7 linked regions of the Homo sapiens genome follow. The protein of the gene in region 3 purifies or fractionates together with the protein of the main gene of each other region. This does not show direct contact. Each region holds a gene or a part of one and is shown on either strand. Other genes may lie near its edges. The genes, in order: HP, TMEM131L, SFXN4, SERPINA3, BPIFB1, TCN1 and PIGR.

The links.
Region 1: the proteins of SFXN4 (region 3) and HP purify together in Homo sapiens (affinity purification with mass spectrometry; one large-scale study listed by BioGRID and IntAct). This does not show direct contact.
Region 2: the proteins of SFXN4 (region 3) and TMEM131L purify together in Homo sapiens (affinity purification with mass spectrometry; one large-scale study listed by BioGRID and IntAct). This does not show direct contact.
Region 4: the proteins of SFXN4 (region 3) and SERPINA3 purify together in Homo sapiens (affinity purification with mass spectrometry; one large-scale study listed by BioGRID and IntAct). This does not show direct contact.
Region 5: the proteins of SFXN4 (region 3) and BPIFB1 purify together in Homo sapiens (affinity purification with mass spectrometry; one large-scale study listed by BioGRID and IntAct). This does not show direct contact.
Region 6: the proteins of SFXN4 (region 3) and TCN1 purify together in Homo sapiens (affinity purification with mass spectrometry; one large-scale study listed by BioGRID and IntAct). This does not show direct contact.
Region 7: the proteins of SFXN4 (region 3) and PIGR purify together in Homo sapiens (affinity purification with mass spectrometry; one large-scale study listed by BioGRID and IntAct). This does not show direct contact.

The regions. Positions count from the first base shown.
Region 1 is NC_000016.10:72,053,203-72,057,304, forward strand, and holds the start of HP (haptoglobin isoform 1 preproprotein), read left to right. Parts: upstream 1-1,302; 5' UTR 1,303-1,450; coding exon 1,451-1,455; intron 1,456-2,958; coding exon 2,959-3,041; intron 3,042-3,327; coding exon 3,328-3,429; intron 3,430-4,102. UniProt on the Homo sapiens protein: As a result of hemolysis, hemoglobin is found to accumulate in the kidney and is secreted in the urine. Haptoglobin captures, and combines with free plasma hemoglobin to allow hepatic recycling of heme iron and to prevent kidney damage.
Region 2 is NC_000004.12:153,472,860-153,476,359, reverse strand, and holds part of TMEM131L (transmembrane protein 131-like isoform 1 precursor), read right to left. Parts: intron 2,516-3,500; coding exon 2,472-2,515; intron 1-2,471.
Region 3 is NC_000010.11:119,159,215-119,162,714, forward strand, and holds part of SFXN4 (sideroflexin-4), read right to left. Parts: intron 3,201-3,500; coding exon 3,126-3,200; intron 1,868-3,125; coding exon 1,841-1,867; exon of another isoform or gene 1,756-1,840; coding exon 1,701-1,755; intron 540-1,700; coding exon 514-539; intron 1-513. UniProt on the Homo sapiens protein: Mitochondrial amino-acid transporter. Does not act as a serine transporter: not able to mediate transport of serine into mitochondria.
Region 4 is NC_000014.9:94,615,391-94,618,890, reverse strand, and holds part of SERPINA3 (alpha-1-antichymotrypsin precursor), read right to left. Parts: intron 1-3,500. UniProt on the Homo sapiens protein: Although its physiological function is unclear, it can inhibit neutrophil cathepsin G and mast cell chymase, both of which can convert angiotensin-1 to the active angiotensin-2.
Region 5 is NC_000020.11:33,303,714-33,307,213, reverse strand, and holds part of BPIFB1 (BPI fold-containing family B member 1 precursor), read right to left. Parts: intron 3,257-3,500; coding exon 3,189-3,256; intron 2,369-3,188; coding exon 2,323-2,368; intron 1,213-2,322; coding exon 1,149-1,212; intron 304-1,148; coding exon 227-303; intron 1-226. UniProt on the Homo sapiens protein: May play a role in innate immunity in mouth, nose and lungs. Binds bacterial lipopolysaccharide (LPS) and modulates the cellular responses to LPS.
Region 6 is NC_000011.10:59,863,688-59,867,987, reverse strand, and holds the start of TCN1 (transcobalamin-1 precursor), read left to right. Parts: upstream 1-1,500; 5' UTR 1,501-1,517; coding exon 1,518-1,596; intron 1,597-3,901; coding exon 3,902-4,081; intron 4,082-4,300. UniProt on the Homo sapiens protein: Binds vitamin B12 with femtomolar affinity and protects it from the acidic environment of the stomach.
Region 7 is NC_000001.11:206,936,467-206,939,966, forward strand, and holds part of PIGR (polymeric immunoglobulin receptor precursor), read right to left. Parts: intron 2,998-3,500; coding exon 2,653-2,997; intron 1,286-2,652; coding exon 629-1,285; intron 1-628.

The sequences.
Region 1 (4,102 bases), on a different chromosome or scaffold from region 3:
CTGTCACCCAGGCTGGAGTGCAGTGGTGCGATCTAGGCTCACTGCAACCTCTGCCTCCCAGGTTCAAGCAATTCTCCTGCCTCAGCCTCCGAGTAGCTGGGATTAAAGCATGCGCCACCATGCCTGGCTAATTTTTGTATTTTTAGTAGAGATGGAATTTCACCACATTGGTCAGGCTGGTCTCAAACTCCTGACCTCATGATCCGCCCACCTCAGCCTCCCGAAGTGCTGGGATTACAGGCGTGAGCCACCACGCCTGGCCTGTCTTCATTTTATTAATACTGTCTTTTGATACACAAATGTTCATTCCGATGAAGCCCAATTTATCTAATTTTTCTTTGATTGCTGGTGATTTTGGTGTCATTATCTAAGAATCCATTGCCAAGTTTTACTTGGTTTTGATCTCTAGAAGACTGCCATCATACTGAAGGTAATCTTCTGAAACTTGCGGTTTTCTTTCAAAAATTATGTTTATAAGATGATCCATGTTCTTGCAGAGTTTATTCATTTTATGCTGTATAATATTCCATTATATCCACATACAATGCAGTATTGACCCTTCCTCCTGTTGATGGGCATTTGTCTTGTTTCTAGTTACTTTGCTATTATATCAGTGTCACCATGATTATCCAAAAGTAATTCTTTTGTACACTCTAATTTAAGAACAACTAACCCTTTTTAATGAATAAATCAACCTTGTATTGAGTTGCTACTAAGTTTCAGTTGACTAGTACCTGGGATACACACAGGTGCAGACATTTGACTGAGACATATTGATTTTTCTCATCTGCCTATTTAGGCTAATCACCAGACTATAAAACCATGAGAACCACTGCCATTGAGTATAGTCTGTGTCAGTCTACACTATAGCTTTAACTAGTTGTGTGATTTCTTGCAAAGAGCAATCAGAGAAGACACAATAAACACATTTACTGATTTCAGGCTGGAGAGCTTTTAAGCAATAGGGAGATGGCCACACACAAGGTGGAGAAAATTACTGTGAAAAGGAAGTACTTTCTTTAGAGCCCCACCTAAGCTAGGCTGCAGAAATGTCTACAATGGGTTTGAAAAAACTCAAAATGAGCCTTTCTGCAGTGTGAAAATCCTCCAAGATAAAGAGACAGATTGATGGTTCCTGCCGCCGCCCTGTCCTGCCCAGTTGCTGATTTCAGGAAATACTTTGGCAGGTTTGTGGGTCATAGAGTTGCCAGGTTTCTTGGGATTTGTAATAGAACATCACAAGAAAATCAAGTGTGAAGCAAGAGCTCAACTCTTAACAGGGGTATTGTTTGTGGTTTTGTTACTGGAAAAGATAGTGACCTTACCAGGGCCAAAGTTTGTAGACACAGGAATTACGAAATGGAGAAGGGGGAGAAGTGAGCTAGTGGCAGCATAAAAAGACCAGCAGATGCCCCACAGCACTGCTCTTCCAGAGGCAAGACCAACCAAGATGAGGTGGGTCCACAGCTTTCCCTCCTGCCTTTCCTCTGGTTCTTTATTTCAGTCTTTTTTGCATACATCGGTAGAGATGCAGAAATAGAACAAAGAAACGGGCAAATGGGCTAAATTATAGTGAACCAAAGGGCTTAGTGTGTTAAATCTTCTCCTTTTCTGCATCCATAGAAGACAGTGCTGCTGTCTTTCCCAGGAGATAAGATTTACTCTCAGGAGTGTCTTTTTCCTTCAGGTTACATTTTTGACTTTATAGGGTATGTCATCAGCTCCCGTGGTAGGCTTCCTGGCATCCTGAGTATATTTATTAGCAGATATTTTCCTCTTTAAAAATGTACAATAAGGAAGACTAATAGTAACACATTTGAATGACACAATTAATTGACTAGTACCTGGGATACACACTAATACCTGGGATACATCTAATTAAGGCACTTAGATCTTATAAAAATAAACACTTTTTGAAATGTTGAAATAATAAGACTAGAAACTTTTTTTTTTTTTGAGATGGAGTCTCGCTTTGTCACCAGGCTGCAGTGCAGTGGCATGATCTCGGCTCACTGCAACCTCCACCTCCCAGGTTCAAGTGATTCTCCTGCCTCAGCCTCCCAGGTAGCTGGGACTACAGGCGTGCGCCACTATGCCCACCTAATTTTTGTATTTTTAGTAGAGACGGGCTTTCACCATGTTGGCCAGGATGACCTCGATCTCTTGACCTCGTGATCTGCCTGCCTTGGCCTCCCAAAGTGCTGGGATTACAGGCATGAGCCACCGTGTCTGGCCTAGAAACTATTTTAATAGAAGCAAGTAGTGCCCGAATGGTTGGCATTTGTTAGTGAGATGGTGAACTGGCAGACGGCACCTGTGGGTCAATGCCCATGGCCACCGTCCTGCTTTTGGACACCAGTTCTCTTCCAGGTAACCTTCTGGCATTTTGGGGTTTCAGATACCATTTCCTAAAGGTGAATTATTATAAAATACTAGAAATACCCACGTGTTTAAAATTATATATTTAAGGAACCTTTTATTACGGAAAATATCAAGAAGTAGAGGAATAGCACAGTAAGCCCAAAGTTCCCATCTCTGAGTTATCTACATTTTATTACCACTATCTTTGCGGTGTCTGAGGGAGGTTTCTCTTTCCTGGAGGGCTCCTGTATTATTGCCAATGTACTTTCCTGAATGCAGCCAGAAACTGAGCCCACCCCTCCACCTATGTGCCTTTCTATCCCTCTCTGAAGCTTCTGCAGAATTCCCAGCAGGACAGGGCTTGCTGGAAGCTTGGTATGCTCAGAAGCTGCTAAAGTGTGTATGGGCAGGTGTGGGGGCAATTTCTTGGTCCTAGCACTTCCATATATCGACTTTCTTTTCTGGCTGCTAAGTGGGAGGAGTGTGTGTGTATGCATGTGTGTGTGTGTGTGTGTACATGCATGTGTGTGTGGATGCATGCATGTGCTGTGAAGCAGGGAGACTAGCTTTCCACTCCTCCTTGTCTTCTCTCTGCAGTGCCCTGGGAGCTGTCATTGCCCTCCTGCTCTGGGGACAGCTTTTTGCAGTGGACTCAGGCAATGATGTCACGGATATCGCAGGTCAGTCTTTGGTTGGGTAGGAGTGTGCATCCCACTCTGACCCTCTCGGGTCTGCACTCTCTCTGAGAACACCCAATTCCCCCTTCTTATCTCGACCTCTGGGCTTTCAGGACCATAAAGAACATTGGGGTTCCTGCCAGAAATGAGGGGAGCTTGCCTTTCCATTGGCTTCTATTCGGGGTGGAAGGAGATTGATGTGCAGAGCAGCTCCCGCTCATCTGACTTTTCACGGTTCACTGGGAACAATTTCCAAATAGCAAACTCTCTGGCTTCTCTCTCTTTGCAGATGACGGCTGCCCGAAGCCCCCCGAGATTGCACATGGCTATGTGGAGCACTCGGTTCGCTACCAGTGTAAGAACTACTACAAACTGCGCACAGAAGGAGATGGTAAGATGTGGACAACTGTCTCCATGCCCTACATACAACCCCCTTCTCTGACATTTCCATGATGGGTGGTGCTGAGGTGATTCGCCAGAAAGTTCGTTGCTCTCCTTGGAGCCAGGAGATTTAGATTCTAATAAGCGTTTTGTCGCCAGTAGCCATGGCCCTTTGGGCAGACTAACTTTTGTCAGCCTCAAGTTTTCTGTTTTGTTAAGGGGAGGCGATGCCATGCAGCCTACCTCATGTAAATCTCAGAGTCACATTTACATCTCCAGCAGATGTGGGAAAAGAAGGAATGCTGATGATGATGTCACCCTCACCTAGTGAGTCTTGCTGTCCTGGCACTGCTCTAAGGGCTTTATACTTATTTGCTCACTTAGTCCTCACAGTATCCCTCTGAACAGAGTTTATTGTTTTCACTTTGCTGATAAGGAAACTGAGGCACAGACAGGTTGAGTATCTTGCCCAAATTCAGGCAGCCTGTAAGAGGCAGAGTCAGGATTTGAACCCTGAGCCCTCCCTGTACTGCTTGGCTGTGACCGCCATGACCACAGTGTGTTCTGCTGGGCTTAACTGGTGTCCAGGCACTTGGCTTCCAGCACAGCACTCTTTCCCTTCCTCCTTCTCATATTCTCTCTCCTTTCTCCCTTCCTGTCTGCCTCCTTTCTTCTTCTTCTTT
Region 2 (3,500 bases), on a different chromosome or scaffold from region 3:
ACTATAAATATAAATTGAAATTTCAGGTTTTTAAAACATTTTTCCTATGACCATAGGTCTAAATATTAATTTTTTTCCTTCTGAATTAAGTTATCAATTCAGGCCAGGCGTGGTGGCTCATGCCTGTAATACCAGCACTCTGAGAGGCTGAGGCCGGCGGATAACCTGAGGTTAGGAGTTCAAGACCAGCCTGGCCAACATGGTGAAACCTCATCTCTACTAAAAATACAAAAATTAGCCGGGCGTGATTGTGTGCACCTGCCATCCCAGCTACTCAGGAAGCTGAGGCAGGAGAATCACTTGAACCCAGGAGGGGGAGGTTGCAGTAGGCCGAGATCACACCACTGCACTCCAGCCTGGGCAACAGAGTGAGACACTGTTTCCAAAAACAAAAAAAGTTATCAATACAATTTGTATTAGTACAGTCGAATCCCTGAGAGATTGGTTCCAGGACGTCTCAAGAATATCAAATTCTGAAGATGCTCAAGTCCCTGATATAAAATGGTATATAGTATTTGCATATAACCTATGCACATCCTCCTGTATACTTTAAATCATCTCTAGGTTACTAATAATACCTAATACAATGTGAATGCTATGTAAATAGTTTTTATACTGTATTAAGGAATAATGACAAGAAAAAGTCTGTACATATTCAGTACAGATACTTTTTTTTTCTGTATTTTCGATCCACAGTTTGTTGAATCCACGAATGCAGAAGTCACAGATACAGAGGGCCGACTGCATACAATTGATCAAACCAACAAGTTTTACAAATTTTGATAGGTAATTAAACACAGAAAGTAAAATCTTATTGAAAATGCATCCTTTAATGAGATGAACAGAGCTATTTTCCCCCCAACTGGTTGATGTGAACATTACCCACTACTAGAATGAGACAGGTTTTTTATCAACTTAATCCTTTCCTTTTTAACTTTTTTAAATGTAAGTACTGAAAAAGCTTGTAAGTACTGAAACAGCTTTATTACAGCACTATCCGTATATTCTCTAAACTACCTCAGTGTTTCATCTAAAAATCACACAGTGAGCCATCATTAAAAGTAACTTGAATGATCTATCAGTTGTCAAATTCATTGGGTCCTCCTTCAATTTTACTAAAAGGAACGATCTGAAAACCACCAAAGTTACTAAAGAATTTGTCATCCAATCAGAGTGGATCACTTTTTCCTAACAAACACCAATATTTCAAATTGCCTCTTTGCCCAAGATGAAGCCAACAGCAGGATTGGGGCTGGGTGGAAGATACAGCTTTCTTTTGTAACGTGGAGAAAAGAGATTGTGAAAGCAGAGGTGGAAAATGGTAACTTACAACTCAGATCAGCTTTAGGAGATACCTACACCCTGGGGGTCTGGAAGCGTAGTCCTTGCAAGTTATCCTCCCACTTATACACCACTTAGAGTGTCTTCGTGTACCTCTAAGGGACCCAGTTTGACAAGTGACCAAGACTGCCCCATGGTATTCTCTTAAAAATGGAATTCACAGGACCGAGTGCGGTGGCTCATGTCTGTAATCCCAGCACTATGGGAGGCGAAGTCGGGCGGATCACTTGAGGTCAGGAGTTTGAGACCAGCCTGGCTAGCATGGAGAAACCCTGTCTCTACTAAAAATACAAAAATTAGCCAGGCATGTTGACACACGCCTGTAATCCCAGCTACTTGAGAGGCTGAGGCAGGAGAATTGCTTGAACCCAGGAGGCGGAGGTTGCAGTGAACCAGGATCATACCACTGTATTCCAGTCCCCTGGTTAAAATTCTTTAACAATTCACACCACACTTAAAAACAAAACTCAAATTCCTTACTGCGACTTCTAAAGGACTACATACCTTATCTCACCATCCTACAAACCACACTGGCCTTCTCCAAGTTCCTGGATTGCCGGCAGGGCTTCCAGCCTTAGGGCCTTTGCACCTCCATTCCCTCTGACCAAAGCACTGTTCCCGCTGCTGTGTGGCTGCTCCTGTTTCCTCCAGGCTTCAGCTGGAATGTCACCTCCCAAAAGGAGCCCATCCACCTCATTATTCTCTACTACAGGAAACTAATTCTTGATAGCTCTTGTCATAAGCATAATTATTTTACTTACAGTAAAGTCTTACTTGCCCACTACACGAAACAGAGGTCTTGTTTGTGTTTCATGTTCAGCACCCAGCACGGTGCCTGGCACTCAATAGATGTTTATAAACAAGAGGGAGGGCACAAGCACATCATGGAAAAAGTGAAATTGGTGAGTGGCGAAGGAGGGGCTATTTCTAACAGCTTTCTAAACAACCTTATTTTAAAACAAAATCGTATTAATGTATTAGAAGGTATAGATACGACAAATGCCAAAGAGAAAGGTGTATTACAGATACTACTAAATACATAAACATGGACATATACTGAGACTTCAGAGAGCACCCAAAGTGGGCAGGGACATTCAGCATGCAGGTTTCCACCCCCATTTTTTCCTTACCTCTGTTCTTGAGAAGGCTCCTCCAGACCCTCTTCAGAATCACCCTATTGAAAAAGAACATGTGTTAACCGTTGTTTCTGTTTGTTCGTTTGTTTTTGAGACAGAGTCTCGCTCTGTCACCCAGGCTGGAGTACAATGGCAGGGTCTCGGCTCACTGCAACCTCCGCCTCCTGGGTTCAAGCAATTCTCCTGCCTCAGCCTCCCAAGTAGCTGGGACTATAGGCACATGCCACCACACCTGGCTAATTTTTGTATTTTTAGTAGAAACAGGGTTTCACTGTGTTGGCCAGGCTGTTCTCAAACTCCTGACCTTGTGATCCACCCGCCTCGGCCTCCCAAAGTGCTGGGATTACAGGCGTGAGCCACTGTGCCCGGCCACCCCTGGGCAAATCTTATAGTCATCTTGCACTGCTCTCCTCCCTTCACCTCCTACCAGAAAGACCTACCCACTCACGGGAAACCCAGTTCCTACCTGTCCTTTCTTCCAACACAGCAGCCCACACCATCAGTAGCCCCGGCTGTATTAGAAGACAAACGCAGCTTTCTTCTCTGCCTGCAGACTGCTGCCTGCAACCATCCGGTGCACCATCGCACTCTGTGCAGCAAAGACCAGTCTCCTCATATCATTCACTCCTTATCACCCTTATCACACAGTAAGGACCCAGCACTCAATGTCATCACTTCAGTCCCTGCTCAAGAACCTACTATGGCTCCCTCCAACTGGTCAGATGCACACCAAGCTCTTCAACAGCATACAGCACTGTCCCACACAGGCCCTGACACACCCAGCCCTACCCCTACAACCACATTGCGGCAAGCACCTGGGCTCCAATTTAAAATGTCCGAGGGAAAATGCTGAACTTAACTGTCTACCAGGCGAGGCTCTGGGCTAGGCCCCAGGCACACACTTGCTGCTGCAGATCTCTAAGGCCTCCCTTGTCCCTAAGCCTTAGCTGACCTCTCCAAAGCAGGGTGCCTCTTCTCTCAGTTCCTATATTTCAGCACTTGACTGTGGTCCCAGGGTATTAC
Region 3 (3,500 bases):
GGTTGCAGCGAGCTGAGATTGCGCCAGTGCACTCCAGCCTGGGCAACAGAGCCAGACTCTGTCTCGAAAAACAAAAAAAACCCAAAAAACCAAAAAGCACCTCCCAAGGGCCAAGGTGAGAAAAGCCTCACAGGGACAATGCCAGGTCCCAGGTGAGGGGCTGTGTCAGAGGAGGACTTGGTGGCCAGGGGTTTGTGCAGGGAGCTCATCCTAACTCACTGGCCGCTTCTACCGTGCTCTGCGCATACTTGGTGTTCAGAAAAGGGATGACCTTGCCAAGCTGTGGGCCTTCCAGAGGCCCGGATGCCTGACTGGGAGGGTGTGGGGAGGGGGAGGGAGTGGGGACAAGGACGTATGAACAGCAGCCATGGGTTATCAGTGGGGATCCACAACCATCTATCAGGCAGTCATGTGACAGGGGTCCGGAGCTGGAGGGACACAGCTGAGGTTAGGAGGAGAGTGGCCATCTTCCCAAGCCCCTAGTCTCCTAACGGCAAATGTCTGCTTGCTCACCGTGGGTGCCATGAAAGGCAGGAACGCTGGCAGGAAGAGAAGAGAGGAGGTGTCAGTGATCACAGTTGCCCAGGCAGAGGGGGCCAGAAGGGGACTACCCACCTGAACACCTCTTCCCCAGCTTCCAGAAGGCACAGACCTCAAAGGACTTTTTCCACTCATTCTTTGTTTTTCTAATAAAGTGGGGGGTCAAGGTCTCAGCACTTTGGTAGGCTGAGGCTGGAGGATGGGTTGAGGCCAGGAGTTCGAGACCAGCCTCTATTTTGTAGAGGTAGCGAGACCCCCACCTCCATAAAAAATTTAAAGCCAGGTGTGGCGGCATGACCCTGTAGTCCCAGCTACTCAGGAGGCTGAGGTAGAAGGATCAGCTGAGCCTGGGAGTTGGAGGCTGCTTTGAGCTATTATGGTGCTACTGTACTCCAGCCTGGGTAACAGAGCGAGACCCTGTCTCTAAAAATGACAATAATAATAAAGTATGTACATAAAATTACTATAACATGGCCAGGCACAGTGGCTCACGCCTGTAATTCCAGCACTTTGGGAGGCCAAGTGGGCGGATCAGAAGGTCAGGAGTTCGAGACCAGCCTGGCCAACATAGTGAAACCCTGTCTCTACTAAAAATACACAAAGGAAAAAAATTAGCTGGGCATGGTGGCAGGCACCTGTAATCCCAGCTACTCAGGAGGCTGAGGCAGGAGAAATCACTTGAACCTGGGAGGCGGAGGTTGTAGTGAGCCGAGATTGTGCCACTGAACTCCAGCCTAGGTGACAGAGCAAGACACTGTTTCAAAAAAAAAAAAAAAGAAAGAAATCCTGCTGGGGGAGAAATAATTAAAGCAAGGCAGGCAGAGTTTTCTTTTCTTTTTTTTTTTTTTTTTGGACACGGAGTTTCACTCTTGTTGCCCAGGCTGGAGCGCAATGGCATGATCTCAGCTCACTGCAACCTCCGGCTCCCGGGTTCAAGTTCAAGCAATTCTCCTGCCTCAGCCTCCTGAGTAACTGGGACTACAGGCACGTGCCACCACAATGCCCAACTAATTTTTTACATTTTTAGTAGAGACGGGGTTTCACCATGTTGGCCAGGCTGGTCTCGAACTCCTGACCCCAGGTGATCCGGCAGGCAGAGTTTTCTAAGTGTTAGAAACTACATCTTCCCAACCCACTTCTGAAAATTAGAACCAACTCACCTGCAGGTCGAAAAAGCTTGGGGATCAGGTTGCTGCTGTCGGGATGCACTGTTGCCTTCAAAAGGAGAGATGCAAGGTTAGCTGGATGTCTGGTTTTGTTATTATAGGACACTAAAAATTAGGAAGGGGCTGAAACTTACAAGACTCCGCTTCCAAGCTTCTTGTATCTTAAAGGAGAAAAAAGAATAGCTTTGTTTCATTTTAAATTTTTTTTAAGAGACAAGGTCTTGCTCTGTCACCCAGGGCTGGGGTATAGTGGCACAATCATCACTCACTGCAGAACAGCCTCGAACTACTGGGTTCAAACGATCCTCCCACCTCACCCTCCTGAATAGCTGAAACTACAGGCTCACGCCACCATTCCCAACTAGTTGTTTAATTTTTAGTAGAGATGGGGTCTTGCTATACGGCCCAGGCTGGTCTTGCAGTCTTGGCATCAAGTCATCCTCCCAAACCATTGGAATTACAGGGTTAAGCCATCACACCCAGCCTTAAAAAAACAACAACAACAACAAAAAAAAACAAAAAAAAAAAAAAAGCTTTTAAAGGTGGCTCAACAGCAAAGAATTTCTTTGCCTGTCTCATTTCTGGGACCACATTTGTTCTACCTTTCAGAGAGTGAAGGCCAGAGCTGTTATTTACCACATTGACAGAACAAATCAAAATAAATGGATCATATGAATAAACAAATGAACTAATGACAAGCAAAGAGACGAGCCACACAGAGAAATGGACCAGAACATTAAAAAGTCCTGTCTCTACCCTTGGAGAATACCAACACCTAACTTATCCCTCAGATGAGTCCCCGAATCCGGCTTGCCTCTGGCTCAGAGCAGAGCAGGCTGTGTGCTGATGACACACCATGCCATCAGTCAAGTTACTTGCAACAGAGCCAAGCTGTCAGCCCAGGGTCCCCAGCACATTCTTAGAAAAAGTTAAATATGTGAGCTCTCCATAGGCTGTCTTGAGGAGCTGGTGTTTGTGAGCTCCAGAAAGCCCCACATACTGCAAGGTAGATAAGGAACAGTCCGTTTGAGCCTATCGGCAGGAACGCTGCCTGCAGTGGAGAATGAATTCTGACGTCAGAGCCCTGTCTGAATTCTGGGGTTTGCCACTGGGCTCCAGGAATCAGCTGCAGGGAATCCCCACAAATATCCACTGTGTAGGAGGAAACTTGCTGTCTGGTTTATGGGACAGAATTCTAACTACATTTAAAAAACTAACCCAGTTTTGCAAAGCTGGTCCTCTGGGCAGTATATAACAATGACAGCATTAATAGCCAATAGAACAGTGGCTCCCAAGGGAAGGAAAAAAGAAAGAAAAGAGACGGAGACAGAGATTAATGGCCAAATTCCACCTGACTTCAGACCATGCAGGCAGAACCATCTGAGGGCAACCAGCCAGACCTGAGCACGTGAAACATACCCTTTGGTCCGCCGAGGCAGGGCTGGAAACATCTTCATTTGTGCACAATAGTTGCCTCGAGTTTTCTATACTTTCCTAAAATCAGATATCAAGTAATCAAGTAATGATCTCAACATTGTTCAGGTTTATCCCCAGAGGTAGGAATCACCAGCTCACTCACCAGCATGCACTGGACTTCGACTGCATGCCTGATTTCAAGCCACATGGTGCCCTAGGCTCTCTATCCATTAGGATAGCCCTGAGTGCCATTCAGATTTATGCCTTCCTCTTCCTAGATGCTCCAGCAGCTGCCCCCAATGGTGCTGTCACCTCCCCCACTCTCTGATGTCAACTGTCGCACTGAATGGTTACCACCATCCCCTGGCTATACATGTC
Region 4 (3,500 bases), on a different chromosome or scaffold from region 3:
CAACATGTGGGAGGCTGGTGCCTGAGGAGAAATGGGACAGCCTTTGTTCCATAAAAGGAAAAATGTCTCATTAGCAATTATTACTCACTGGTATTACAGGGATGTGAACATATAACAGTGGCTTGTGGGAGGGCTTTGGGTGGAAATAAGAGGAAAGAGACTGGGTTCTGTATGTGAGTTGGTGAGGGCAGACAGAAGAGATGCCAATCAGTGTGAATGAGGGGAGGAACAGGAAGAACCTTAATGGAAGATAGAACTCAGAGCCAGGAGAGACCATGGGAATAAAAGCCTAGGGACACTTGTGACATCTTAGAGGATAGCGGTGTTGGACATCACAAAAGCCATGAGCTGGCTATGGTCCTTAGCTCATATCTAGCTCATGTCCACCTCTACAGACCATGAATATTCAGCTAAGATTTGCCCTGGATTCAGTGTCTGTCAGGCTGAGGATTCAACTGTGGGTGTTCTGACTCTGAGGCTGCCTAGGCTCTCAGTGTTGCAAAGGTAAAATTCCATGAAACTGCCTCTGGTACCTCTAGCTATCACAAACCTGAAATGCAGCCTGACTCCTAGCCAGGCTGACATAACTCCTCTCACTAAAGGCCTATTTACCATAGTAAAGAGAAAGAGAAAATCTTGAAAGAGGTAGAGGTAGAGGCAGAGGGAGGAAAACTCCACCTTATCTAAAAAGGAATAAGGATGAAAATGACAGCAGACTTCTCATCAGAAACTATGCAAGCAAGGGAAGAATGGAGTAAAATATTTAAAATGTTGAAAATTCCATGAAACTCATTCTTTGGGAATCATGACATAGGCCCATGATTCGCACGCATTTAGTTGGGTACAATTATTTTCCTCCCCTAGAACAGGGGTCAGGAAACTATAGCCTGTAAGCCAATACAGCCATAGCTTATTTTTGTGTGTACCTAAAGCTAAGAATGGTGCTTATATTTTTCAAAGGTTGTAAAAAAAATGAAGAGGAAAGAGAAGATGAAGAAGATGCAGAGGAGGAAGTCAAAAAGAAGAATCTGCCCTCATGTGGACCACACAGCCTAAAATACATACTACTAGGCCCTTTATGGAAAAAAAATTGTCAATCCTTTCTCTAGGTTGTGGGCTCCACAATCTTTCACCTCCATTCTTGGTTTTAGGAGATGCTTGGTAAAAGCTCATAAAGTCACAAACGGCTTTACTTTAGGGGTTAAAATGAGGGAGCAAAAGGAATTTTCAAATGGGCCCAGGTCAACTTTGAATGTTTAATTATTTGCTTTTCTGGACGGCATGTCTCCTACCTAACAAATGGCAATACCACCATCCACCTTTCAGAGCCGCTGCGAGAATTAAACGAGGTATTGCATGTGAATGGCTGGTGAGAGTAGCTGCTCAATAAATGGGAGCTTCTTTCCTTTCTTTCTTTATTTTGGTTTTTCTTTCTGTAATTGCAATGAGAGCCAGCTTCTGGGTGGCCCTACATTCTCTTGTGCCCTCATCTTCCTTCTTGACACTTCCCCACCTTTGGGCTTTCTAGGACCAAAATAACTGTCCATCTTTCCTTTCCCCTCCCCAAAGACCATCTCAGCTTCTCTGGTCCCTGCAGCCTCCCAACATGGAATGACTGGGGACAAATGTAATTGTAAAGATCCCTTGGAGAAAGGACCCATCTCAGGGTAGGAGATATTTCAGTTGAACAGGTGTCCCCGTTACCAATTGCAGCAGCCATTCAGGGGCTTCTGTGGCCTCCATGTGAGGGCAGTGCCATGGAGCACCTTCCCATATTACCCAGGGCACCGAGCTCCTTTGGGGCCTTTCAGCTGGCCAGATCTCCAGCATGGGTCCCTGCCAGAAAGATGGGCTGCCTCTGGGGACCCTGACTGCTGCCTTGTATGCCAGAATGGGGAGAGAGATAGGTTTGGTGGATGAAATCACCACCCAAGCTCTACAAGCCTTTAAATCTTCTCACATCTGCTCCCATCTCCCCCCATTTCTGTCTGCCAGCCACCAAGTTTTCCAATTTTGCCTCCTTAACATCTTCTGACATCCTCAGCTGTTCAACTGAGGGCCCGAATGTCTGGTTAGTCTAGTGTCTTTAGTATCTGATCTCTGCTTGACTCAACTTTCTCTCTGCTGTAACGGCCTTCGCTTCTTATTCTATCTGGATTTAAGAGAAAAGACGAAAACCGTTTTCTAGGGGAAACCTTCCTTTCTTGAATTCCCATCTTCTGCCCCTGGTTGGATGCCCCCACCCCCTTACTTTCAGCTGAATACATAGTTCTAGCATCACTGGGTGAGTCAATCCTTGCATGCTCTTGGGTCCAGTGGGTGCAATGGAAGAGGAAGAGCAGAAAGGGAGGGAACAAGCACTCCAGGGTTCTGAGCTGGGACTGTCTCAGCCTGAAGCTCATGCATGCTCGGTCCCCTCCACCTTCCACAGGGCTGCCCCAGCAGTGACCAAGCCCCGTCACATACACTGTATGTAAACCAGGCTGAGGCAGGGAGCAAAACTGGCACCTGGAGAGTGAGGAGAGGTCAACAGAGGAAGGGGAGGGGCCCTGCAGGTCTCCACTCCAGGAGGACCAGAGCACTGAACAATGAGGGGGGTGGGAGCTTCCAGGGGAGGCTGGAGACATGGGGCCACCTCCACTGCCCACCTGTTTACCACCTGCCTGTTTCCCATTGTTAGAGGCAGGTGGGGAGGGGAAAGCTAGGCTGGCTACTGTGTCCTGGAGGGGAGAGTCCTAGCATAGGGCTAGGTAGTAGGAGGCGAGAACATGGGAAACTCAGAGAACAAATGGCACGTGAGGCGTGGAGTAGTCTTAGAGGGAGATCTGGATCCACGCCTTCATTTACAGATGAAAACCCAGGCCCAGGAGGGGAAGTGGCTTGCCCAGGAATCAACCAACAGCTTCCAAGCAGGACTCTGCCTCCAAGCAGCTCATGTCTCCTAAGCACCTTTCCACCCTCTGGCTCAGTGATCACTCTTTGTGTCCCTATCTCTTTTTTTGTCCCCATCTGGACTGTGGGCTCCAGGAGGCAAAAGCTACCGGCTTGCACTCTGCCCCTTCGGAGCTTGCAGGCTGAGGTTTGCATTGGTTGAGTTTCTATCAATGGGATTGGGCACTGGACCAGTTAGAATCTGGCAAAGGGTCATGTTTTGTATACTGCCCACCCTTGAGGCTCTTCCCCAGATGGGAACAATGCCATTTCTGCCCTCATTTGTTATGTGTCAGTGACATATTTTTTAAAATAATTAAAGATGATAGCAGAGTAGAATCATAGAATCTTGGAAGTGGCCAGGCTCCTTGGGGATTATCTTGCCCTGTGAAGATGGCCCCAGCCCCACCTGGCCACCTCCAGACACCAAGGCCCCTGGCTGGAATGTGCTCCTCCCACATGTGCAGGGCAGGAGCCCCAGGTGCATCCAGACAGAGGGACTTCCTGGCCTAGTCTAGCAGCACCCCTGCAAGGAGGGAGCTCTAGCTCCTACGCGCCCTGGAGTGGTT
Region 5 (3,500 bases), on a different chromosome or scaffold from region 3:
TGACAAGGGGGTGGAAAAAGTGTACTGACCCCAGGCTAGGAGGGTTCCATCCTCAGCACAGCCAACCTTCTCACTTGCAGATGAGGAGGTGAGGCCCTGAGAGGGGAAGGGACTTGCCCAGGGTCACCTGTAGGCTGGGGTTGGAGTGCAGGCCCCACCTCCCAGCCAGGGCTCTCAGTGGCTGTGCCCTCCCTGGGGCAGGATGTTTAGGGCCACACCCACTCACCTTGGTCAGTGAGGACTCAGCTGCCTCGAATCCCAAGGCCTTCACCAATGACACTGGGACCCCAGATCTTAATTTGCCTGAAATAACAAATGTGGTCAGAAACTGATGGGCCTGGGGTGAGACTGGGCAGCCAGGGGCAGGCTCAGGGTTCCTGAAGGGGAGCCCCGGCCTGGCAGGCCTGATCAGACAGCCCCCTCTGCCTCTGCTCGCCTGTTCTCTGGCCCCAGCATTGACCCAGCCTCGTCTACCCTCCCTTTGCCTCTGGCACTGGCTTCTGGCCCCTCACAAAATGCAGTCCTCACATTCTCTTACGCTCTTGCTCAAGAACCATCAGGGGCTCCCATTATCCCCAGCAGAGGTTTCTATACTTTGAGATTTTTCCAGTCTAATAAAATAAAGAAATTAAAAAGGTGGAACTGTATAGGTTACAAACCCTTCCCACCCCTCATTCAACCTGGGGCTGAATTAGAGTGTTGGGCACTGACTGTGCCAGGCACCTCCTGATTTGTGCCTCTGAAGAAGGTACTTCTACGTCCCCATTTTACAGATGGAGAAACTGAGGCTCAGAAGGATTGTGCAGCTTGACCAAGGCCAGGCACTAGCAAGAGGGGGAACAGGGTCTGCTGAGGCGCCTCCAGTTGTCTCTTACACCTCTGTCATTGCTCTCATTGTCTGCTTATGCCTCTGTCTCCTTCCAGCCCTGCAAGTCTGGCCCACTGCTTGGTTCATCTTTACGAGCCCAGCCTCTGGCACTAGCAAAGGAATTGGGCTGAGAAGGTTCTTGGGAGGAGGCAGATTTTGAAGTAGGCTCTGAGGGATGGCTGGGAGATGAATGAAAGGGGCCCCATTCATGGAGATGAGGGCAGGGGAAGTAAAGCCAAGCCCTGGGGAGAGAGGGGGCACAGATGGCAGAGGTATGCACCATTCTGGTTCGGCAGCAGGATGGAGTGGATGATCTCAGTGATGATGTTTTTCAGAACATCAGGCTGTGAGAGAGAGAAGGGGCACTGTCACCCTGGTTGAGCATCTGAAGTTCCCCCCCATCATTCTTCGTGGGTGTGGCTCCTCCCCATGGGTGAGGTGGCTGGTGGAGATGTAGGAATTCCAGGTCCCCTGCTGATCAGAGCTGTGGGGGCTCCCAGGGACCAGATGGGCTGGGTTGGGGCATGAACTCAGCCGCCCCTGGGGCCTGGTAGATGGGGGGATTGGGGTGCATTGGAGGATGCCCCATCCTCAGGGGCCCCACCACTCTGTTGCAGCTGAATTTGCCCTGAGGGAATTTTGCCCTGCATTGCCTGAACTTCTGACTTCTGGAGGGAAGCCAGAAGTCCTGATTTGCATGTGGAACTCTCCGTGTTTTAAAATATTAGTCACCGGGCATGGTGGCTCATGCCTGTAATCCCAGCACTTTGGGAGGCCAAGGCGGGCAGATCATGAGGTCAGGAGATCGAGACCATCTTGGCTAACATGGTGAAACCCTGTCTCTACTAAAAGTACAAAAAATTAGCCGGGCGTGGTGGTGGGCGCCTGTAGTCCCAGCTACTCAGGAGGCTGAGGCAGGAGAATTGCTTGAACCCGGGAGATGGAGGTTGCAGTGAGCCAAGATCACACCACTGCTCTCCAGCCTGGGCGACAGAGCGAGACTCCATCTCAAAAAAAAAAAAAAAAAAAGTCAAAAATAGTGAAAAACAAATCATAAAAACCAGAGAAAACACGCCAGACTGAGGTATTGGGGTTCGGTCTGAATCCCAGCAGGAAAGGGCTGTCTAGGGGCACTGAGGCGCGTCTACGTGTGCAGAATGAGATTGTGAGTCAAGGGCACTTGTGTTCTAATTCAGGATCAAAACTTCACTGAAAGAAAGTGTGTATCTGTGAGTGTATTTGTGTGTGCGTGTGTGTGTTCTCAGCTGTGTCTGACACGTGGTGGCTTCTCTGTAAACACTCGAGGGAAGTTGGACTTTGGTGGAGACCGGCCAGCCCCCCATGGTGCTTCTGTGGGGACCTTGTTTGAAGCAAATCCTGGGCAATATCTGTTTTGAGAGTGGACCATTCCAGGCCACCCCCTGTGCCCTCAGGCACCACCTGTTAACACTTACTTGGAACCAGCCAATCCCAGAGTTCATCAGCTGGATCCGATCAGAGCTGCAATGGAAGATGCCTGTGAGAGCGGCCCCTGAAGTCCCACTCATTCACCATCCACTCATTCAACAGCGATTTATTGAGCACCTATTATGTGCCAGGCACAGTGCGGGCTCCAGTGAACCACATGAAGCCCTTGCGTCGTGGAGCTTGCATTCTAATGGCAGGGGTGGGGTGGGGGGCATAGAGGGGGCACAGAAAACAAATAGCAGTCCAGTGAGCAGAAAAATCAACCTCAGGAGTCAGGGCTGTGGTGGACAAGGAGGCCCAAGCTCCTTCAAAGGGCGCCCCAATTCCTGGCTCGACAGTTTGTTGCTATGTAGGATTGTGGGCACAGGGCAGCCAGATAGTCTGATTTGATATGTGCACAACTCATTTATATTAAACAGCCCAGCCCTATGTGGGCTGATCAAAAGAGCCCTGGGCCTGACTTGTCCCCAGAGGCTCCAGCTGGCAGCCCCTGCACTCACTCTGGGGCCACAGGAAAGTGGCGGGGAGGGAGAACAGGCAGGGTGCAGGAGGCAGCTGGAGCCCTGCACTTCTGTGCCGGGTGACTGTCACTGCCACGGCCTGGGAGGTGTCCAGAGTGGGCTGGCCGCGGCTAGGGTTTGCCTGTGCCGTGGCTGCTGCAAGGCCTACTTCATTTTCCTCCCCATTCCCTCACATGCAGTCCTTGTCAGCAGGAGCATCCGGAAGGACCTCCCTGCCTACCCTGGAGCCGCCTTCACCTGACAGCCACAAAGTCGGTGTTTAAAGAAACCCATGGTTACCAGGCGGGACTCATTTCCATCAGCAGAATCTTCATGATGATTTGTGTGTTTACCTGATGTTATTCAAGTTGAGTATAAGTTGGTCACCTTTGGTGTAAAACTGAGCTTCCGAGCTGGCTTCCTGCAACAAGAGAAGCCCAGGCCCCATTGTTCTCAAGAGGATCCGAGTGTGGAATTAGGGGTTATGCAGGGAGGCTCTGGGGTCTGAATCTCAGTTCCTGGCTCTGGGACCTTGGCAAAGGGTTTGACCTCTCTGGGCCTCACCTGCCTCATCTGTTAAATGAGATAGTACTTGCCTCCACTCCCCATTTAACAGATGACAGTCTAGGCTTGCTGTGGGGAATGATAATGATGACGATGACGAC
Region 6 (4,300 bases), on a different chromosome or scaffold from region 3:
TCCTCCTTGGTTAGGAAACTCTCATGGAATCTATCTTAGGAGAAAAATCATAGTTTGGAAACCACTATGCCAAAGATCCCCTCATGTGCTGGGTTCTCCAATACTGCCTGCTTCAATTTCAGACTTACAACTTTTACTTCCGTTTTTAAATTTTTTTATTTCAATTTTTGTAGGTACATAGTAGGTGTATATATTTATGGGGCTCATGAAATGTTTTGATACAGGCATGCAATGCGTAATAATCACATCATAGAGAAGGGGGTATTCATCCTGTCAAGCATTTATCCTTTACGTTACAAACAATCCAGTTATACTATTAGTTATTTAAAATGTACAATTAAATTATTATTGACTATAGTCACCCTGTTATGCTACCAATAGTAGGTCTTATTCATTCTTTCCAATATTTTGTACCCATTAACCCTCCGCATCTCCTTCCCACCACTAGCCTTCCCAGCCCCCAGTAACCATCTTTTCATTCTCTATCTCTATGAATTCAATTGTTTTGATTTTTAGATCCCACAAATAAGTGAGAACATGCAATGTATGTCTTTCTGTGCCTGGCTTATTTCACTTAACATAATTATCTCCAGTTCCATCCATTTTGTCACAACTGACAGGATTTCATTCTTTTATATGGCTGAATAGTACTCCATTGTGTATATGTACATTTGCTGTGTTCATTTATCTGTTGATAGACACTTAGCTTGCTTCCAAATCTTGGTTATTGTAAACAGTGCTGCAACAAACATGGGAGTGCAGATATCTCTTCAATATACTGGTCTTCTTTCTTTTGGGTATATAGCCAGCAGTGGGATTGCTGGATCATATGGTAGCTCTATGTTTAGTTTTTTGAGGAAGCTCCAAACTGTTCTCCATAGTGATTGTACTAATTTACATTCCCACCAACAGTGTACAAGGCTTCCCTTTTCTCTACATCCGTGCCAGCATTTGTTATTGCCTGTGTTTTGAATAAAGCCATTTTTAGCTGAGATGAGAGGATATCTCATTGTAGCTTTGATTTCCATTTATCTGATGATCAATGATGTTAAGCACCTTTTCAAGCACTTTTTCATATGCCTGCTTCCCATTTGGATGTCTTCTTTTACTTCCATTTTTATATGTTGTATGTGTTTGCATGATCAAATCTACTTTATCAGGAAACATAAAACATAAAGTGAAACGGAAAAAAAAGGAAAGATTATAGGAAACAGTCATTTGCCTAATATATCTTCACTGCACGGAAGGCAAATAATAGATATGAAACCCGAAGGTTTAGGACAGGAGACAAAGGAAAGTTATTGCCTTATTCTCCCTAACCACATCCTTCAAGTCTTCTTCCTTATTTATTACATCACATGGACAAATACACTTGACCACACCTCCTGACATTGCTCAATATTTGCTTGAGTGAAAAGAGGCTGAGGCAACCTGAAGGAGGAGCTCTCATTACCTTCTGCCCATCACTTAATAAATAGCCAGCCAATTCATCAACATTCTGGTACACTGTTGGAGAGATGAGACAGTCACACCAGCTGCCCCTAGTGGGGCTCTTACTGTTTTCTTTTATTCCAAGCCAACTATGCGAGATTTGTGGTGAGTAAACTTTGAGCTAAAATTACTCTAGAGTGATAGTCTACTGAAAACTGTTGACAAGAGACTCTATGTAGAGTTACCTGAGAAAAGATCCCATTCCAGTTTCGTATGTGGTTGGACTCCATGAATGATGAAAAGGGTGGCAGGAGATGGTGAGGAAAGTCTCACAATGCATGTTGTTGTAAGAGGAATTATAGATTGTGTATTCACTTGCCTAACTGCTCTTTCTATGCTCAGATCCTCTCTAGCACAGCATCCCTACCAAGTAACTCCCTATTCATGTGACTTTTCAATGACAGAAAATTTATGCTCCCAGAAACTTTTCTAGATCATGGAAAGTTATCTTTTGGTCTTGATATGCAATCTTTTTTCCCTGAAATTCAATGCATGATTTTTGGGTTAACCCCTTGTAACTACATAGAAAAAAATAATAATCTCTTTCAAATAGTGATGACTGCTGTCTTGTCATGAGTGAGTTTAGATGTTCCAAGTTGCATGTCCACCTTCCTTCAACTCTTTCCCAGGACACATGGGATAAAGTTCCATCATCTCTTGCATGGGTGTTGACCCCAGAGATTGTGTGGTTCTGTAAAAGAACTTTAAAGTAAGAGAAGGGAAAACTAAATTCAGGTTTAGTTTGATCCCTTAGTTATTGAATGACCCAACATTTCTGAATTTCTTTAGCTTCATTCATAAATAAAGGATAATGAGGGGAGACTATTGAAGCAAATTATCTCATGAAGTCTGGTGCAGTTCTCAAGTGCATGAATTCTCTTTTGTGAGACTTTACTCTGAAATTGAGCTTCAAACCAGTCCAAAGATTACTAGGTGGTACTATCTGTGCTCTCTAACCAGTAAGAAGAGAACACCACAGAAGACAGGCTTGTATACATACAGGCTAAAGCATAGACTCTTCTGACTCTGATTTTTCTTCTTGGCTTGACATTTCCCCTGTTGGATCCTAAGAATAGGGAATGGCTATGTAGGTTTTAGCTTTCAATTCATTTTAAATAATAATGATAATAATTAAATTTATCTTTGAGACTCAAGGAAGCTGATTTGAGTTGTTGATCAGGAACTAAAAAGTCTGTTTCAGGGCCAGAAAATCTGCTGAGCTGGATGGTTCCACAAAATCTCAGAGAACTGACTCACAATTGTTCCATTGTGTCTGCAACAAACCATGACCTTTCTACAATCACTCTATTCAGATCTTCTTGACTCATTCTTTTAAAGTAAAGAAAACTGGGCAAGAGAAATTACATTTCCTTGATTCTCAAGTATAGTGATAAAAACTCCAGTTGAGCTGGAAATAATAGTATGTGCAGCATTTTACAGTTTATTCGGTGGTTTCTTGTCCAATATCTGTAAGGTAAGTGTTAACAGCCACAATTTTTAAATGAGAAAACTAAGAGTAAAACAAGTTACATAAGTTATTATCCACAGTCATAAGTTAAGGAGCACAAAATGTGGCCAAAATCTGAATCCAAACCTCATGTTCTTCTCACTCTCCCACTAATCCATTAGATAATCTGGAGATATGTAGGATTTGGGGCTACTCCTCAAGATTATGGAAAAATACATTGACAAAGTGTCCTGTGTTTAAATAAATAGTAAATCTTTTTATTCTCCTCTATTTCCTTGGGAGCTATGGATTTTCCTACTTCCACAGTATAATGTGACTTCCCTCCATCTCTGGAATTGGGGCATATTGTAGGCTAAAACTGGAGAGTTTTTTACAGGCTGCATAATGCTAAATAATGATCTCGATGCCCAGCCAGCTGGGTAATCAGACAATGAAGTTTTGGGGTCAATCACCAGTATAACACAGAATTATTACCTGCATTTTCTCAACATTAACCCAGTTGATTTAGAAGATGGAGAAGGAAAGAACTGAATCCAGGAAGTAGAAAGTCCTGCTTACTGAGAGTCAGAAGACATGTAGTCTAGTTTCAGCTCAGCCTCCAATTATGGAAGTTTCTTTAAGGACAATCTATCTAAGCTTCATATACAAAATTAGGGAATGATGCTAGATTTCCCAGGCAGGAGTCTGCCAGTACACAATGATAAGTCTGCACCAGTTGTTAAAATATTAAAACATTTTCATGTTGGTTGTTAAAGGAGTAATGTCTGGCATGGGGGTGGGTTCAAGACCCACCTTTGTATTATTCCACCAACACAGTCTGCAGCCACTGGATTGGTCTAGGTCTGTGCCATATCTGTTACTAAATATTTTTATATAACCCCTGCTGCAAGTCTTACTATTTTCTGAGTATGTGTTTCTTATTTCCTTCCTTCTCTGCCACAGAGGTAAGTGAAGAAAACTACATCCGCCTAAAACCTCTGTTGAATACAATGATCCAGTCAAACTATAACAGGGGAACCAGCGCTGTCAATGTTGTGTTGTCCCTCAAACTTGTTGGAATCCAGATCCAAACCCTGATGCAAAAGATGATCCAACAAATCAAATACAATGTGAAAAGCAGATGTAAGTTGCTGTATATTCTGGAAGATTTAGAAAAAAATCTACCTATTTAAAGATTATCTGCAACTAATCCTAAAAAATTATGCATCCAAAGTATCCCTGCTACATCCCTTCTAATGGTACCAAACTTGAGGTAACAGAAACATGCCCAAAATACAATCCCATGCCATTCACCCTAGAGCTAGGTCTTGCTTCTTTTGGTCTTAAAAACCACTTTTCTTC
Region 7 (3,500 bases), on a different chromosome or scaffold from region 3:
TTGGAACTGCAAGTACTGGTTTGCTGCTTCTCACGAGGGCAACTCTATGCAGGGTGCTCTGGGATGAGAAGGAGCTGGGATTTAATTCTTTCACCATGCTGATGGCTCACTGGAGTAGGGCTGAGTGGGCCAGATGGTGCTGAAATTCACAAATAACCCTACGAAATGTGACAGTGAAACATTTAGAGGCTGGGGCACTCCTGGGAACGCATTGAGACCAAGATAAGCCAATCCTTTTTCCATCTGAATGTGAGGGATGAGGCACCCATCTTGTTCAGGGGCCAGGGGAGGGGACAGAGGACCCCTGCAGAGCCTGCCACAGCCCTGAAACACAGTCTATAAGTCCTGCCTCAATCAAGAGCTTTACTCACCTCTTGCTTGTTAAGCAGGGACAGCCATCAAAATGACTTTGATAACAGAAGAGTAATTAGGAGCTGCCATCAGGCAGAGGTTGCTTTTTCTTGCTGTCCTGTGCAGCAGCCCACGCAGCCTCCAGTTCGGGGCTGGTCATTGAGTGGATGCTGTTGGCTGATTGATGACTATTGATGAATACACTCAGAGGGAGCTGAGCTTGGCTCTCACCTGCGAGACTGCCCCACCTACTCCCCCTCCCTCTCTAGGGTCTTACCCTCATTGACGAAGAGTTGCCAGGCCTGGATAGGCGAGCCTTCCTGCAGCTGACCATCCGAATGGGCTCCACACAGGTAGCGCCCTGCATCCTCCTTCCTCAGGCCTGTGATCACCACACTGAATGAGCCATCCTTGTCCTGGGGGTTGAGCAGGATCCTGCCCTCAAAGGCTGGGGCCCTCTTCCCCAGGGTGTTGACGACCACGTCACAGTTTTCCCCACTGCTCTGTCGGCACAGAAATTTGGCCACGTTTGCCACCTCAGGGCCCAGGGCACAGTGGAAGGTCACTGAGCCCCTCAGGTCTTCATAAACCAGCTCGGGCTCGGGCTTTAGCACTTGGAGGTCAGCATTCTTCTTATTACTATTGGAATCATCCCCAGCCTGGCAGAGATACTGCCCAGCATCGCTGAGCCTGAGTTGGTTGATGACAACGCTGAACAGTAACTGGCCAGTACCCTGAATATCAAGGCGTATTCTTCCTGTATAGTTGGGATTTACATAACCACTGGAGTCGATGACCAGCACAGGGTACAGGCCTATCTGCTTGTACAAGGACTTCCTCTTTTGAGCATTCTCAGTCTTGAAAGGGCAGTTGATGGTCACCGTTCTGCCCAGGTCCACTGTGTAGACTTTAGTGTCATTTAGGAGCCCAGGACCTGCAGGATGAGGGGTGCAAGGTAGGGGGCAGGCAAGTTACGATTCTACTTTCTTGCAACATAGGACTATTTGCTATTCCTAGTTAGGGTGTGGGTGGACTTATAACCTGGAATGCCCTCCTTCCCAGAGGAATGCTGTCGGAAGGCCCAGCTTGACAGCGGTCTTCTCCATGAAACCTTTCCCAAGCTAACACTAATCTCTCCCTGCCCTGTGCTTTCTTGATACATCTGCATCACTTATTACATCCAATCTGGTGTATGGGTAATTATGTTCTCCATGGACTGGAAGTTCCTTGAAGGCTGGAACATGTTTTTCTCATGTTTGACCCCTCTGCTGTGACAAGCACAATGCCTCTGGGTAGTAGGTGGCCAAATTAATGTGTGCTGAAATGAACAGAATGAATGTAAATGCAGGGTGATGGATTTCAACGCATACAATAGAAGTTTCTAAAAATTACAAGAGTCTAAATGTGAAATGGGCTGTCTCAGGGAGCAGTGAGTTTCTGCTAAAGTGCTTAATCAGAGGCTGCATACCCGTCATCAGCATGTTCTTCTAAGTGTCCGGTTAGGGTGAACTCTAAGCCCTCTTCACCTCTAAAGATTCTGTGGTTTTGAATCTTGATCCCCACCTAAATGACCTCCTCATTTAGTCCACAGACAATAGTATGCATATTCCAAAGGAGCAAGACATGTCTTTGGGAGTCCCCCTGAATTTCTTTTCTCCGTAGACCTCTCTTTTGAGTTGCCCTTGACTATCTAAAACAGCCTCATTGTTAAACCCTTGTCAGAAAGAGCTTTTCTTTTTTTCTCTTTCTCCAACTAGAATAGGCTTGTTAGCAACCCATCCTTTCAGGATCTTGGTCTTTGGTCAAGATCTAATAATCTAATTTACCCTGATAATACCAAAAGACTAAGGGTTCCCAGGTTAAAAAAAAAATATGCATTTTACAAGAAGCCTTTTGGCGGCCCAAACCTTGATGGAAAGGTGCATTAATGATAGGAATTTAAGGATCCCTGTAAATCTCTCCCTACCTTTTCTATCTCCTTAGCCTGATGTCAGATTTCCCTTTCTACCTGTAGCAAACACCAGAAAACTTGTCCTTCTGATACCCTTCTAAGCTGGGGTCTCCAGAAAGCCTAAAATGTTATAGGCCACCAAGTCCTAGAAGGGTTCACTCATCACCCCCAAGTAGGCCCTATCTGTCTCCTTCTCCTGTTAAAGAAGTCTTTGCCTGGGGAAAGGGGTGCCTTCTGACCCCCAACCCGGCTACACATCCTTGTCAGGAAGTTCCTCCTCAAGCCCTCCATGCACCTTAGAGAATTCCCTCTAACTTTCCCCCAGAAGCCCAAGGAGCTTGGATCCTTACCCTGGCTGACCTCCAGGCTGACATCAAAGGACAGGCCTCGGCTATTGATGCCCAGGCCACACTTGTAGCGCCCGGAGTCATCCTGGCTCAGCTGGGCAATGTTCACCACAAATGTGCCGTTCTCCGGGAAGTTGGTGAGGTTAGCCCTGCCTGCATATTTGCTGGAGACGTAGCCCTCCGAGGAGATGAGGGTTATGCAGCCACCTCTAGCTCCCTGCCGGCACCAGTACTTCCGGGTGTGCCGGTTGACAGAGGTGGGTGGGTAGTAGCACGTGATGGACACTGAGTTACCTTCCACACTATTCACCTCCTCGGGACCAAATATGGGACTCTTCGTGGAGATGGCTGTGGGAACAGAAGAGAGAGGCTTTCTGAGGCCCTTGGGAGGTAAAGCCTGTTCCAGATAACCCACTATGAGTAGATGTGGTTTTCTACCTGACACGTAGGCCCTGTGTTGATAATTTATCATATATCACAGCTGGAAAATTGCTGAGATTAAATAAAGTGACTGTTTTAATCATGATTAAATTGGAATTGTTATTCATTAATGATAACCATTTCAAGGACAAGGGAATGACAAATTTATGATAACCCTTGTTTTTTATTTTATATATTTTTATTGTTTTGAGACAAAGTCTCTCTCTGTCGCCCAGGCTGGTGTGCAGTGGCACGATCTCGGCTCACTGCAACCTCCGCTTCCCAGGTTCAAGCGATTCTCATGCCTCAGCCTCCCAAGTAGTTGGGACTACAGGTGCATGCTAGCTAATTTTGGTTTCTATTTAGTAGAGACAAGGTTTCTCCATGTTGGCCAGGCTGGTCTTGAGCTACTGACCTCAAGCAATCCACCC